2 separate regions of the Homo sapiens genome follow, and region 1 is linked to region 2. A link means that fine-mapping ties the variant in region 2 to the expression of a gene that starts in the linked region. Tissue or cell type: lung. Region 2 holds a variant in brackets; the other region holds the start of a gene. All regions are shown on one strand. Distances are between the middles of the regions.

Region 1 (8,095 bases), 27 kb before region 2:
CTGACCACCCTGGGCAACATAGCAAAACCCCATCTCAGGCCAGGCACAGTGGCTCACGCCTGTAATCCTAGCACTTTGGGAGACGAAGGTGGGCGGATCACTTGAGGGCAGGAGTTCAAGACCAGCCTGGCCAACATGGTGAAACCCTATCTCTACTAAAAATAAAAAAATTAGATGGGCATGGTGGCGGGCACCTGTAATCACAGCTACTCGGGAGGCTGAGGCAGAAGAATCACTCGAACCCGGGAGGCGGAGGTTGCAGTGAGCAAAGATCTGTGTCATTGCACTCCAGCCTGGGCAACAAAGCAAGACTTCTTCTCAAAAACAACAACAACAACAACAAAAAAAACAGACGAAATCCTTATAATGTCCTACAAAGCCCTTCAAAATTACCTTCTCCCCATTATATCTCTGAACGCCCTTCCTTCTTCCACTTTGATCCAGACACATACATTCCTTCTGGCTGCTCCTTAAACTTGCCAGGTATGTACTTGCTTAATAGCCTTTGCTGCATTCCCTCTGCCTGGAATGTTCTTCCCAAATATCTAATTGGCTGCCTACCCTGACCACCCTATTTAACTCTGCACTCTGCCCTCAGAGTGGGGGCAGCCCACTTTTTCTTTTCCATAGCATTTAACATCTTTTGGGCATGGCGCAGTGGCTCACGCCTGTAATCCCAACACTTTGGGAGGCCGAGGTGGGCAGATCACGAGGTCAAGAGATCGAGACCATCCTGGCCAACATGGTTAAACCCCATCTCTACTAAAAATACAAAAATTAGCTGGGCGTGGTGATGTGCACCTGTAGTCCCAGATACTCGGGAGGCTGAGGCAGGAGAATTGCTTGAACCCAGGAGGTGGAGGTTGCAGTGAGTAGAGGTTGTGCCACTGCACTCCAGCCTGGCAACAGAGTGAGACCCCGTCTCCGTCCACCATCTAGACAGGGCTCTTTTTTTTTTTTTTTTTTTTTGAGCTAGAGTTTCACTCTTGTTGTCCAGGCTGGAGAGCAATGGCGCGATCTTGGCTCACTGCAACCTCCGCCTCCCAGATTCAAGCAATTCTCCTGTCTCAGCCTCCTGCGTAGCTGGGATTACAGGCATGCGCCACCACACCTGGCTAATTTTTGTATTTTTAGTAGAGATGGGGTTTCACCATGTTGCTCAGGCTGGTCTTGAACTCCTGACCTCAGGTGTTCCACCCACCCTGGCCTCCCAAAGTGCTGGGATTACAGGCGTGAGCCACTGTGCCCGGCCGACAGAGCTCTTTATTATGTTCACTGATGTATTCCAGGAGCCCAGCCTGGGACATCATAAATATTTGTGAAGTAAATGAATTAGTTGTAAGGCTTAGAGATATTGGTGCTCAGTAAATACTTGGTATCACTATTATTAATAGGTCATAGGCCCAAGCTTTGAGCCTACACTGTAGTTAAAAGCAAACTGGGCCGGCCGTGGTGGCTCACGCCTGTAATCCCAGCACTTTGGGAGGCCGAGGCGGGCGGATCACTAGGTCAGGAGATTGAGACCATCCTGGCTAACAAGGTGAAACCTCGTCTCTACTAAAAAATAGAAAAAATTAGCCAGGCATGGTGGCAGGCACCTATAGTCCCTGCTACTCGGGAGGCTGCTGAGGCAGGAGAATGGCGTGAGCCCGGGAGGCGGAGCTTGCAGTGAGCCGAGATCGCACCACTGCACTCCAGCCTGGGCAACAGAGCCAGACTCTGTCTCAAAAAAAAAAAAAAAACAAAAAAAGCAAAGTGGAGCCAGGTGCAGTGGCTCACGCCTGTAATTTGGGAGGCCAAGGCGGGAAGATCACCTGAGGTTAGGAGTTCGAGACCACCCTGGCCAACATGGTGAAACCCTGTCTTTTTGTAAAAACACAAAAATTAACCAGACATGGTGGCGGGCGCCTGTAGTCCCAGCTATCTGGGAGGCTGAGGTGGGAGAACCGCTTGAACCAGGAAGCGGAGGTTGCAGTGAACCGAGATCGTGCCACTGCACTCCAGCCTGGGCGATAGAGAGAGACTCCATCTCAAAAAAAAAAAAAAAGCAAATTGGAGCCAAGAGAGGTAACTCACCCCAGTAATCCCAGCACTTTGGAAGGCAGAGGTGGGGGGATTGTTTGAGGCCAGGAGTTTGAGACAGCCTGGTCAACATAGTGAGACCCCCATTTCTGCAAAAATTAAAAAATTAGACGGACCTGGTGGTGTGAACCTGTCATCCCAGCTACTTAGGAGGCTGAGGCAGGAGGATCGCTTGAACTGAGGAGTTGGAGGCTGCAGTGAGCCAAGATGGTGCCACTGCACAACAGCCTGGGTAACAGACGGAAACCCTGTCTCAAAAAAAAAACAAAAAAAAATTAAAGTGGCACACTTGCAGTTGGACATTAGGAAGATTAACATATCAATACTGCTTAGGAGTAGTACAGGTAGGGTGGGGCCGTGCTGGAAGGATGGGAAGAGGGAGGCCGAAAAACAAATTGGTTCTTTTCAAACCATCCCTGATCTCCTCCCCGACTTTTATAAGTCTTATCTATAGGGAACACAACTATTCGAGACATACTCTGTGCCTGGCGCCGGGTTTACAAGAGGGGGTCGTGTCCCACTTCCCTGGCGAACTCCTACGAATCCTTCAATACCCGGCGGTACCCTCTGCCAGTAAAGGCTCATAAAACACGCTACAGTCACAGGATCTCCTCAGATCAGTGGAGGCGGCAGGAAGGCGTCCCAGGGAAGGGTTAACTTAAGCGAGATCCCAGCAGAGAAGCAGGTCGAAGATCCCCGGGCAGCGCGAAAGGAGGTTCAGAGAGCCCACCCCATCTCCTGCAACATCTCTCCAATGCAGGCACACACACGGGGTCCCCACGAGCACAGACACACAACCAACCGTCCTCTTTCCAGTCCCCACAAGGGACCTTCAAAGGGTCTCCTCCGGGGTACCACTCAGACCCGCCCCCGCCACCCGAGCGCGGGGAGCAGGAAAACTCTAGCGGCAGCCGAGACGCTGCTCACCCGGCGCTCGGCGCCATCTTGGCCCCGCCCCCTCGTGGGAGCAGGTCCTGGCAGAGCCTAAGAGCAAGTCACTGCCCCTTCCCCGTACCAGAATAAGTCCTCTAGGCTCGCAGAATGAAATTATATTTTAAAAGTTTGTTTCTACATCTATATATAAGGAGCACTCCCTCTTGGTGTAATTACTGCAATTTATTCCTTCACTACCCGGCTGCCAGGACCTTCAAGAGGCGCCACAAAACGGAGGCAGGGAAACCCGTAGCAACGAGGCCCCACCCTTGTTGGGCTGATCCTGCGCATGCGCCGACCTTCCTCGGCTGGATTTAAGGTTGCCGCTAGCCGCCTGGGAATTTAAGGGACCCACACTACCTTCCCGAAGTTGAAGGCAAGCGGTGATTGTTTGTAGACGGCGCTTTGTCATGGGACCTGTGCGGTTGGGAATATTGCTTTTCCTTTTTTTGGCCGTGCACGAGGCTTGGGCTGGGATGTTGAAGGAGGAGGACGATGACACAGAACGCTTGCCCAGCAAATGCGAAGGTATTTGAAGGGGGTAGCCCCTATAGGCATCGCCCGGCCACACCTCCTTCTTCTAGGCCGGACATCCTAGCCTGTATTGGGTGGGTCACCCGACCTCCTTGAAGGCTTGAGGGAGGTTCTGGTGGAGCTTGGCTGAATTTGGATGGGGTCAAGGAAGCGAACGTGTAGTGCCACCTCAAACTGCATCCAGAGAGAGCCTGCATTTTTTTGGCTGGCTTGGAACCCCCCGCCCGCCAATGGATTGTGGGAATTGTAGTTCAGGGACCATCGGCCCGGGACTGCCAACTTTTAGAGCATCTTCAGTGAGTGTTTACCTCATGTCACCAGACCTTAATCTGCAGAGGCTGCAGGAGCCGGGTGTGAGGCTCAGGCCTTGTGGACATCCGCTGCCCTACCCTAGCATAGACGCTCCCAAATTACAGGCCCCACACCCCGCTGAGGGGGTTTGAGGGTGAGTAATTCAGCCTTTGAAGCTCATAAACAAAAGGAAGCCACACAACTAGGAGAGTGTCCCCATCCGGTGAGACTTTGCAGACGGTGCGTACTATATGGATTTTTCAGCAAGCAGCGCCTTCCATAGCTGCACTAGCGTGGGGCCCAGTTGAGAAAGGGGGCTGGCCCTGATGCCCTAGTTTGCTGCCCTCCTGACTTTACGTTTCTTCCCTGGATTCCTTTTCTCTTCGCTTCACCCCCTCAACTGTATTCCAGTATCATGAAAGGCAGTCATGACAGTCTCATGACTTGGTCCTCATCTCTGTCTCCTTTCACCTCCGTGTGCCGCTCTTCTCCCCTGACCTGTCAATCTTTTTAAACAGACTTAATCACCTAATTGTATCAGTCCTTGCTTTAACACCTCTGCAGGCCTTCTATCAGAATACAGCCAACGGGCCTGGGCACAGTGGCTCACATCTGTAATCCCAGCACTTTGGAAGGCCAAGGTGGGAGGATCACTTGAGCCCATGAGTTCAGGCCCAGCTTCACCACAGCTTGTCATCCTTGGTTTATCTGTCCCAACTACACTGACAGAGACCTGTAGATAGAGATAATAGGTCTTATTGCTGTCTATATTGTTAGTATGCATACAGAAGGAGCTCAATAAATAACTGCAGGATAACAGTGAATACTTATACAGTGCTCACTATGTGCCAGCCTTTATATATGTTGATTTATTTAATCTTCATCACACTCCTATGAGGGACATACTATTATTATCCAATTGTATTAATTTTATATATATATATATATATATATATATTTTTTTTTTTTTTTTTTTTTTTTTTTTTTTTTTCTCTTTTCAGACAGCGTCTCATGCCGTTGCCCAGGCTGGAGTGCAGTGGTGCAATCTCGCTCACTGCAACCTCCGCCTCCCGGGTTCAAGCGATTCTCCTGCCTCAGCCTCCCAAGTAGCTGGGATTACAGGCGCCCGCCACCATGCCCAGCTAATTTTTGTATTTTTAGTAGAGACAAGGTTTCACTATGTTGGCCAGGATGGTCTCAATCTCTTGACCTCGTGATCCACCCACCTCAGCCTCCCAAAGTGTTGGGATTACAGGCATGAGTCACTGTGCTGGCCTATTTATTTTTAATGTATTTTACTTTTTTTAAGATGGAGTCTCCCTTTGTTGCCTGGGCTGGGGTGCAGTGGTGGGATCTCAGCTCACTGCAACCTCCACCTCCTGGGTTCGAGTGATTCTCCTGCCTCAGCTTCCCGAGTAGCTATTACAGGTGCGCACCACCACACCTGGCTAGTTTTTGTATTTTTAATAGAGATGGGGTTTCACCATGTGGGCCAGGCTGGTCTTGAACTCCTCAAGTGATCTGCCCGCCTCAGCCTCCCAAAGTGCTGGGATTACAGGTGTGAGCCACCACTCCTGGCCTATTATCCCATTATAAAGATGAAGAAACCGGCCGGGCGTGGTGGCTCACGCCTGTAATCCCAGTACTTTGGGAGGCCAAGGCGGGCGGATCACAAGGTCAGCTGATCGAGACCATCCTGGCTAACACGGTGAAACCCTGTCTCTACTAAAAATACAAAAAATTAGCCGGGCGTGGTGGTGGGTGCCTGTAGTCCCAGCTACTCGGGAGACTGAGGCAGGAGAATGGCGTGAACCCAGGAGGCGGAGCTGGCAGTGAGCCGAGACTGCGCCACTGCACTACAGCCTGGGCGACAGAGCGAGAGTCCGTCTGAAAAAAAAAAAAAAAAAGATGAAGAAACCGAGGCACAGCAAGCAGGAAGATTGCCACACAGCTGCTAAATGGCTGAGCCAGGATTCCAACCCAGCCAGTCTGGCTCCATAGTCTGCACTTGTATGCTCTGCTGCCTCAGGTCATCTGCAGAATGAATGGCTGGTGTGTTTGTCTTTTACCTCCCCCCGGACGTTTCTCCTCCCCACCAGTGTGTAAGCTGCTGAGCACAGAGCTACAGGCGGAACTGAGTCGCACCGGTCGATCTCGAGAGGTGCTGGAGCTGGGGCAGGTGCTGGATACAGGCAAGAGGAAGAGACACGTGCCTTACAGCGTTTCGTGAGTCCTTCGTGCTCCTCCCCTTTCCAACCCCCAACGGAGCCCTGGGAGTTCCTACAGCATCCAGGGAATCTTTGTTTCCTCTCTTTCCACAGAGAGACAAGGCTGGAAGAGGCCTTAGAGAATTTATGTGAGCGGATCCTGGACTATAGTGTTCACGCTGAGCGCAAGGGCTCACTGAGATATGCCAAGGTCAGACCCTTCCCCAGGGCAGGACCCCACTTCTCAGATACAAAGATCTGTATCCCCTGAGGCCCTCCAGAGGTTATCTGCCCATCATCTCACCATCATGGAACTCACCCTTGAATCTCCAGTAGTTGACAAAACTGAAATGGCAGAAAGGGGAAGGGAGGGGTGGGGTGGTGAGCTGGGCTGATGCCAAATTCTTAATCTCTCAGGGTCAGAGTCAGACCATGGCAACACTGAAAGGCCTAGTGCAGAAGGGGGTGAAGGTGGATCTGGGGATCCCTCTGGAGCTTTGGGATGAGCCCAGCGTGGAGGTCACATACCTCAAGAAGCAGGTAGGATAAGACACTGCACCATCCAGGGAGGTGAGAAGGGAACCTGAGAGGGGAGCTAGGTTCTAGGGTTTGACTATAGGGGATGTCTACCCCTAAGCATGGGGAAGGGGCCAGAGTGAGGACTGTGCCATTGATTAAAGTGGGTCCAGGAGCGGTGGGGTGCGGTGGCTCACACCTGTAATCCCAGCAATTTGGGAGGCTGAGGCAGGTGGATCACCTGAGGTCATAAGTTCGAGACCAGCCTGGCCAACAAGGCAAAACCCCGTCTTTAATAAAAACACAAAAGTTAGCTGGGCGTGGTGGTGCACGCCTGTGATCCCAGCTACTTGGGAGGCTGAGGCAAGAGAATTGCTTGAATCCAGGAGGTGGAGGTTGCCATGAGCCAAGATCGCACCATTGCACTCCAGCCAGGGCGACAGAGCAAGACTCCATCTTAAAAAAAAAAACAAAAACAAAAACAAAAAAAAAGAAATCATAATGAGCCGGGTGGAGTGGCTCACAACTGTAATGCTAGCACTTAGTGAGTCTGAGGGAGAAGGACTGTTTGAGACCAGAGTTAGAGACCAGCTTGTGCAACATAAGAGACCCCCTTCTCTACAAATAATAATAATTTTAAAGAATTTTTTTTTTCAAGACGGAGTTTCACTCTTATTGCCCAGGCTGGAGTGCACCGGCACCATCTCGGCTCACCGCGACCTCCGCCTCCCGGGTTCAAGCCATTCTCCTGCTTCAGCCTCCCGAGTAGCTGGGATTACAGGCCCCTGCCACCACGCCCAGCTAATTTTTTGTAATTTTAGTAGAGACGGGGTTTCATCATGTTGGCCAGGCTGGTCGAACTCCTGACCTCAGGTGATCCACCCGCCTTGGCCTCCCAAAGTGCTGGGATTACAGGCATGAGCCATTGGGCCCTGCCTTAAGGAAAATTTTTAAAAAGTAATAATGGGCCAGGTGCGATGGCTCACGTATGTAATCCCAGCACTTTGGGAGGGCGAGACAGGCGGATCACGACATCAGGGGTTCAAGACCAGCCGGGCCATCATAGTGAAACCCTGTCTCTACTAAAAATACAAGAATTAGCCGGGCGTGGTGGTGTGGTGGCATGCATCTGTAGTCCCAGCTACTCAGGAAGCTGAGGCAGGAGAATCACTTGAACCCGGGAGGCGGAGGTTGCAGTGAGCTGAGATCCCACCACTGCAGTCCAGCCTGGGTGACAGAGCGAGACTCCATCTCAAAAAAAAAAAAAAGTAACAATGGTTGCTAATGATATCCACCATCACTTATTGAGCACCTACTGTGTCCCAGACTCTGGACCAGATACTTTGCATCTGTAGCCTCATTTTACCCTTAACAGCCTGATGTGGTAGGTGCAATTACCATACATATTTTACAGGCAAGGAGCTGAGACTCAAGAGTTTAATAATCTACTTGGCAGAATAGGTGCTGGTAAATGTTTGTTGAATGAATGAGGATTGCACATCTAGTAGGCCAAACTTAGCTTCCTGGCTACC
Region 2 (8,101 bases):
CAGACACAGATTGTAACACTTACTATGTTGAAGGAAATGAAAGTCCAATTTTAAGATCTCAGTGGCCGGGCAGTGCAGCTCACACCTGAAATTCCAGCACTGTGCAAGGCTGAGGCACAGATCACTTGAGACCAGGAGTTCAAGAGCAGCCTGGGCAACATAGCGAGACCTCATCTCTGTAACAAACAATAACAAACAAAAATTTAAAAATAAGTTTGTGGATTTAGGCATGTTTGTTATGTTTCAATTCACTGCAGTTATTGTCCTGATTGATTTCAAAATATTCTTTTTTTTTTTTTGTCCAGTGGAAGCCTCTTCAAGTTGGCCTTTGAGTTCTTTTGACACAACCCTAGTCACCAATAAAGTTATCTTTTTATTTATTTATTTATTTGTCTATTCTTTGAGAAGGAGTCACATTCTGTTGTCCAGGCTGGAGTGCAGTGGTGTGATCTCCATTCACTGCAACCTCCACCTCCCGGATTCAAGCGATTCTCCTGCCTCAGCCACCTGAGTAGCTGGGATTACAGGCACATGCCACCACGCCTGGCTAATTTTTATATTTTTAGTAGAGACGGGGTTTCAAAGTGTTGGCCAGGCTGGTCTTTAACACCTGACCTCGTGATCCGCCTGCCTCGGCCTCCCAAAGTGCTGAGATTACAGGCGTAAACCACTGCGCCCAGCCTAAAGTTATCTTTAACTTCATTCTGTGGTTTTATTATTACTTTTTCCTTTTTTTTTTTTTTGAGACTGAGTCTCGCTCTATCATCCGGGCTGGAGTGCAGTAGTGCGATCTTGGCTCACTGCAACCTCTGTCTCCCAGGTTCAAGGCCTGAGCCTCCCGAGTAGCTGGGATTACAGGTGCCTGCCAATATGTGCAGCCAATTTTTGAATTTTTAGTAGAGACAGGATTTGGCCGCTATCGGGGGAAATTCACCCCCAATATTTCACATAGCTTCTTTTCTATATTCCCTAAGAGTCGGCCGGTCTGAGAAATAAAGGGACAGAGTACAAAAAAGAGAAATTTTAAAGCTGGGTGTCCAGGGAAGACATCACATGTCGGCAGGTTCCGTGATGACTAATAAAAACCAGCAAGTTTTTATTAGTGATTTTTTCAAAAGGGGAGGGAGTGTACGAATAGGGTGTGGGTCACAGAGATCACATGCTTCACAAGGTAATAAGATATCACAAGGTAAATGGAGGCAGGGCGAGATCACAGGACCACAAGACGGGACAAATTAAAATTGCTAATGAAGTTTCGGGCACGCATTGTCATTGATAACATCTTATCAGGAGACAGGTTTGAGCAGACAACTGGTCTGACCAAAATTTATTAGGCGGGAATTTCTTCGTCCTAATAAGCCTGGGAGCGCTACGGGAGACTGGGGCTTATTTCATCCCTACAGCTTCGACCATGAAAGACGGCCGCCCCACAAAGCGGCCATTTCAGAGGCCTACCCTCAGGGACACACTCTCTTTCTCAGGGATGCTCCTTGCTGAGAAAAAGAATTCAGCAATATTTCTCCCATTTGCTTTTGAAAGAAGAGAAATATGGCACTGTTCCACCCGGCTCACCGGCAGTCAGAGTTTAAGGTTATCTCTCTTGTTCCCTGAACATTGCTGTTATCCTGTTCTTTTTTCAAGGTGCCCAGATTTCATATTGTTCAAACACACATCCTCTACAAACAATTTGTGTTAACACAATCATCACAGGGTCCTGAGGTGACATACATCCTCCTCAGCTTACCAAAATGACGGGATTAAGAGATTAAAGACAGGCATAGGAAATCACAAGGGTATTGATTGGGGAAGTGATAAGCGTCCATGAAATCTTCACAATTTACATTCAGAGATTGCAGTAAAGACAGGCGTAAGAAATTATAAAAGTATTAATTTGGGGAACTAATAAATGTCCATGAAATCTTCACAATCCACGTTCTTCTGCCATGGCTTCAGCCAATCCCTCCGTTTGGGGTCCCTGACTTCCCACAACAGGCCACGTTGGCCAGGCTGGTCTCAAACTCCTGAGCTAAAAAATTAGCCGGGCGTGGTGGCAGACGCCTGTAGTCCCAACTACTCGGGAGGCTGAGGCAGGAGAATGATGTGAACCCGGGAGGAGGAGTTTGCAGTGAGCTGAGATCACGCCACTGCACTCTAGCCAGCCTGGGCGGGAAAAAAAAAAAAAAAAAAAGAGAGAGACAAACTCAATAGAAAAATGAGAAAAGAGTTGAACTGGGCCGGCATGGTGGCTCATGCCTGTAATCCCAGCACTTTGGGAGGCCGAGGTGGGTAGATCACTTAAGGTCAGGAGTTTGAGACCAGCCTGGCCAACATGGTCAACATGGTGAAACCCCCTTTCTACTAAAAACCCAAAAAAATTAGTCGTGCCTGGTGGTGCGTGCCTGTAATCCCAGCTACTCGGGAGGCTGAGGCAGGAGGATTGCTTGAACCTGGGAGGTGGAGGTTGCAGTGGGCCGAGATCGCACCACCGCTCTCTAGCCTGGGCAACAGAGGAAGACTATCTCAAAAAAAAAATAAATAAATAAGCCAGTTGCAGTGGCTCATGCCTGTAATCGTAGCACTTTGGGAGGCCGAGGCAGGTGGATTGCTCTGAGCTCAGGAGTTCAAGACCAGCCTGGGCAACACGGTGAAACCCCGTCTCTACTAAAAATACAAAAAAAAAAGCCGGGATGGCAACGTGCCCCTGTAGTCCCAGCTACTTGGGAGGCTGAGGCAAGGGAATTGCTTGAATCCAGGAGGCGGAGGTTGCAGTGAGCCAAGAGCGCACCATTGCACTCCAGCCTGGGCAACATAGCAAGACTCTGTCTCAAAAAAAAAAAAAAGTTGAACTGATACTTCACAAAAGATGATATCCCAAAAGCCAAACCTGTCTGAAAATGTGATCAACCTCATTAATATTTAGGTAAATGCAAATAAAAACTACAATGAGAAGCCATCGCATATCCAAAAACTTTACCCTAAAAGTGTGGCAATACTGGCTGGGCATGGTGGCTCAGGCCTGTAATCCCAACACTTTGGGAGGCTGATGCAGGCAGATCACGAGGTCAAGAGATCAAGACTATCCTGGCCAACATGGTGAAACCCATCTCTACTAAAAATACAAAAATTAGCTGGGTGTGGTGGTGCGCTCCTGTAGTCCCAGCTACTCGGGAGGCTGAGGCAGAAGAATTGCTTGAACCCGGGAACCAGGAGGTGGAGGTTGCAGTGAGCTGAGATTGCGCCACTGCACTCCAGCCTGGGCAACAGAACAAGACTGTCTCAAAAAAAAAACAAAAAACAAAAAGTGTGGCAATACCATGTGTTAATGGAGCTGGAGATAACTGGGAACTCTGACACATTGCTAGAGGAGTGTGAGTTGGTCCAACCAGTTTGATTTGCAGACCATAGATAAAAAAGATAGGAAACTCTCTGATTCATTTTATCTGGCAACCTGCTCTTTCTACCAAAAGCAGATAAAGAATATACCAAAAAGAAACTACAGCCCAATCTCATTTATCATAATAGATTTTAAAAATTCTAAATAAAGCAGTAAAACAAATGGGTAGTATAATTTGTTCCAGCAGATTTTATTCCAGAAACACAAAGATGGTTAAATATCAAGAATACTGCCACCATAATTTATTACATCAAAATCTTTTTTTTTTCTTTTGAGACGGAGTTTCATTCTTGTTGCCCAGGTTGGAGTGCAATGGCACAATCTCAGCTCATTGCAACCTTCGCCTCCTGGATTCAAGGATTCTCCTGCCTCAGCCTCCCCAGTAGCTGGGATTACAGGCATGCACCACCACACCCACCTAGTTTTTTTTTTTTTTGTTTGTTTGTTTTGTATTTTTAGTAGTGATGAGGTTTCACCATGTTGGCCAGGCAGGTCTCGAACTCCTGACTTCAGGTGATCCACCCGCCTTGGTCTCCCAAAGTGCTGGGATTACAGGTGTGAGCTACCACGCCCAGCCTTGAAATTGCTGTTTCTAACAAGTCTTAAAAGACACCCAGACTTTAACAATTGTTATTATATTCAGATTTTTTTGTTGCTTTTTGAGACAATCTTGCTCTTTTACCCAGTCTTGAGTGCAGTAGCATGATCATGGCTCACTGCAGCCTCAACCTCCTGGGCTCAAGCGATTCTCCCACCTCAGCCTCCCGGGTAGCTGGGACTACATGTGCAGTATCATGCCTGGTTAATTTTTAAATTTTTAGAGATGGGGTCTTGCTATGTTGCCCAGGCTTCTAGAATCATTCTTCATATTATTTCACTAACACAGCCTCCACCACATTAATATGGCAACAGGTTTAGAAATTATTTAAAACAAAAATTTCTAATGTTTACATATATTGTGTGATGTGTGTGTGTGTGTGTGTGTGTGTGTGTGTGTGTATCATTCCAAGGTACTGTTTCTAATTTTTTCCTGTAGGGAATGAATATTCAGTATTGCAGCTGCATTGGCTAGCTGGGGATTCTATTTACCACCACATTGTCCCGGACTGAATCTGGGGACAAAAAAACCACTTCGGGAACAAATTCTTGTCTTCAACAAAGAGCTGTCTTGAGTAGGCACAAAAGTAGCATTTGAGGGCCGGACGCGGTGGCTCAAGCCTGTAATCCCAGCACTTTGGGAGGCCGAGGCGGGCGGATCACGAGGTCAGGAGTTTGAGACCAGCCTGGCCAATATGGTGAAACCC[T/G]ATCTCTACTAAAAACACAAAAATAGCCGGGCGTGGTGGTGGGCGCCTGTAATCCCAGCTACTCGCGAGGCTGAGGCAGGAGAATTGCTTGAACACGGGAGGCGGAAGTTGTATTGAGCCAGAGATCGCGCCATTGCACTGCAACCTGGGCGACCGAGTGAGACTCCGACTCAAAAAAAAAAAAAAGTAGCATTTGAGTACCTTTTTTTTCCTTTTCTTTTCTTTTTTTTTTAGAGGAAGGGCACCCAGGCTGGAGTGCAGTGGCACCATAATAGCTCACTGCACTCTGCAACTGCTGAGCTCAAGAGATTCTCCTCCATCAGCCTCCCTAGTAGCTGGAATTACTGGCGTGAGGCACCATGCCCGGCTTATTTTCTTATTTTTTTGTAGAGGTGGTTGGAGCGGGGGGACTGGGGAGGGTCTCGCTATGTTGCTCAGGCTCGTCTCGAACTCTTGCCCTGAAATGATCCGTCCTCGGCCTCGCAAAGCGCTGAGATTACAGGCGTGAGCCACGGCGCCCAGCCTTGAATAGTTTTTCACATGCATTGCACGTTATTTCCTTTTATTCTCTAGTTTTTGGGTCCAGTCTTAAACCTGGGAAGGGATTCATTTGGGGGGGTCACACCAGCGGGCATCCTGGCTCAGGCGGAACTCTGGCTCCAGACAGTGCGCCCAGGACCAAACGGTCAACCCCGGCCTACTCCCGCCCCTCCCAGATCCTCCCCTCCTCGGACGCTCCCGCGTCTTCCTCTCGCTCAGGCACTGAGGGGCGGGGAGATGGGTGTTAAAGAGGGGATATCACCAATCAACGTGCGCCTCCGGGAAACAGCGCTTCGCACTGGCTGGTTGGGTCTGACGACGTGGCCACTGTCCAATCCTCATGCTAGAGGCGGGGCTAAAGGCCAGTGGCGCAAGCAGAAGGAGGAGCGCAGCGGCTGCAAGCACGTGACCGGGGCCTGAAGCCGGAAGCTACCTATCTGGTAGGGAGCTCCCCCAGCACCGAAGACTGCGATGGTGAGTGAGGACGCATGCGCGAGAGGACCCGCCGGGGGTTCAGCGTCTCTGCTCCCCAGTCTGTGTGGTTTCCCCCTGGTGGGCCTGCGCTCCACCCTCACCTCCTATCCGCTCGGGGAGGAAGAGGGGATGGAAATGGGAGGGATGGCGACGAGAATGCTGGGGAGGGGTCTGTGGGAGGGTGTTCTGGGGCTGCGGGTAGTCTGCAGGTCGGGCGGAGACGAAGGGAGGTGAAGAGAGGGTCTGGGGGCAGGGGCCAGTGGGGCAGCAAAGGCCCCTTGGGGTAGCAAAGGTGGGATGTGGAAGGCCAGGGGAGCCCGGGGGCGAGAGTGGGGGCAGATGGAGGCTCGGGAAGATCAGTATTGAGGACCATGTAGGGGGGAGGGGGCCGGGAAGGGACCTGGCTGGGGAATGAGAAAACCTGGGGCCATCGTCAACCCAGAGACTTGGGTTTGCAGGTGAAGGGTATCGGGCCGTCCATCCCTCTAGCATGCTTCTCACGACTTGCATCTTTACCCACTAGACTTCTGCGCTGACCCAGGGGCTGGAGCGAATCCCAGACCAGCTCGGCTACCTGGTACTGAGTGAAGGTGCAGTGCTGGCGGTGCGTTCTGGGAAAGGGAGGGGGTCCCTTAGTGCACACAGCCCGGTAACCCCTTCTAATATTGGCCCTTCTTTTCTCGGCTTTTATCTGGTTTCCTGCCTGGCATCTATTAGGTTGGTACAAAAGTATTTGCAGTTTTTGCAATTACTTTCAGTAATCAGTCTGTGGAATCTTAGTCTCCTAACGGCTGCGATTTATTTATTTATAGTTTTTGAGACTGAGTTTCGTTCTTGTTGCCCAAGCTGGAGTGCAGTGGTGCGACCTCGGCTCACTGCAACCTCCGCCTCCGGGGTTCAAGCGATTCTCCTGCCTCAGCCTCCCGAGTAGCTGGGATTATAGGCACGTGCCACCATGCTCTGCTAATTTTTTGTATTTTTAGTAGAAACGGGGTTTCACCGTGTTAGCCAGGCTGGTCTCAAACTCCTGACCTCAGGTGATCCACCTGCCTCAGCCTCCCAAAGTGCTGGGATTACAGGCGTGAGCCAACATGCCTGGCCTTTATTTGGTATTTCTTAAAAAGGCATTTGTATTTTGTTCCATAGTACTGTATGGTGTTAGGTCTCTAGATTACAGGCGTGAGCCACCACGTCTGGCCTTTATTTGGTATTTCTTAAAGAGGCATTTGTATTTTGTTCCATAGTACTGTATAGTGTTAAGTCTCCAGATGTTTTTGACTTAGGTAGAGACAAAGCTTAAGGTTAAGGGTTGAAAACAATACAGGTGGTAAAGACTATTGAGGGAATCCAGGATATTAAAAATTCAACATGTTATGACAAGGTAACTAACTTTCCGGGAGGTAGGAATTCAGCCCACCTTAAAGGAGAGTATTTACAGTGGGGGAGGACTTATTTGCAGGTGTGTGGCACTAACCTATCTGAACTGATGGTAAGTTTATGCTGAAAAGATTTGGGAAGGTTTGAGGGAAGAGAGGAGGATATGGTCAGGGAGGATGTAATTGTGAAGGATCTTCAAGGCCAGGTTAACACACTTGAACTTATTCTTGAAGGTAATACAGTTTGAAAGGTTTTTTAAAACAGAAACAAGACCCAGTGAGGTGGTTGAGCAATATTGTTGTTAGTGATGTGAAGATGGGCAGAAGGAGGCGTCATTAAGAGATGAGACTGGGCTGGGCGTGGTGGTTCATGCCTGTAATTCTAGCACTTTGGGAGGCCAAGGCGGGCGGATCACGAGGTCAGGAGATCGAGACCATCCTGGCCAACACGGTGAAACCCCGTCTGTACTAAAAATACAAAAACAAAATTAGCCAGGCCTGGTGGCGGGCACTTGTAGTCCCAGCTACTCGGGAAGCTGAGGCAGTAGAATGGCGTGAACCTGGAAGGTGGAGGTTGCAGTTAGCCGAGATCACACCACTGTACTCCAGCCTGGGCGACAGAGCAAGACTCCGTCTCAAAAAAAACAAAAAAAAAAAGAGATGAGACTGGGCAAGTGGTGGTAAGAAGGAGGAGCAAGGAGAGAAGAGTTTTGTTTTTGTTTTTTTTTGTTTTTGTTTTTTGAGACAGAGTCTCGCTCTGTGGCCCAGGCTGGAGTGCAGTGGCATGATCTCAGCTCACTGCAACCTCCGTCTTCCGGGTTCAAGTGATTTTCCTGCCTCAGCCTCCTGATTAGCTAGGATTACAGGTGTGCACCACCATGCCCAGCTAATTTTTGTATTTTTAGTAGAGAGAGGGTTTCACCATGTTGGCCGGGCTGGTCTCGAACTCCTGACCTCATGATTTGCCCGCCTCAGCCTCCCACCCAAAGTGCTGGGATTACAGGCATAAGCCA

What was found. PIP is the estimated chance that this variant, and not a neighbour inherited with it, causes the effect.
Region 1: it holds the start of CNPY4, and the variant in region 2 is fine-mapped to the expression of CNPY4 in lung (TOPMed, PIP above 0.99). The same link has a PIP of 0.9 or more in breast, gastroesophageal junction, skeletal muscle, subcutaneous fat, transverse colon and visceral fat.

What each region holds. Positions count from the first base shown.
Region 1 is chr7:100,116,320-100,124,414 of GRCh38, forward strand. It overlaps CNPY4 (canopy FGF signaling regulator 4), which reads left to right and starts at 3,315. Exons shown (of 6, transcript NM_152755.2): 1 at 3,315-3,543; 2 at 5,940-6,066; 3 at 6,162-6,258; 4 at 6,465-6,587. The coding sequence starts at 3,426. It overlaps TAF6 (TATA-box binding protein associated factor 6), which reads right to left and starts at 3,039. Exons shown (of 15, transcript NM_139315.3): 1 at 2,885-3,039. RefSeq lists enhancers at 2,992-3,141, 3,352-3,571, 3,942-4,011.
Region 2 is chr7:100,143,264-100,151,364 of GRCh38, forward strand. LAMTOR4 (late endosomal/lysosomal adaptor, MAPK and MTOR activator 4) reads left to right here and starts at 5,655. Exons shown (of 4, transcript NM_001008395.4): 1 at 5,655-5,712; 2 at 6,236-6,316. The coding sequence starts at 5,710. RefSeq lists enhancers at 4,658-5,270, 5,295-5,354, 5,625-5,734, 5,883-6,495 and silencers at 6,035-6,124, 6,135-6,224. The variant T/G (reference allele first, on the strand shown) is at 4,699.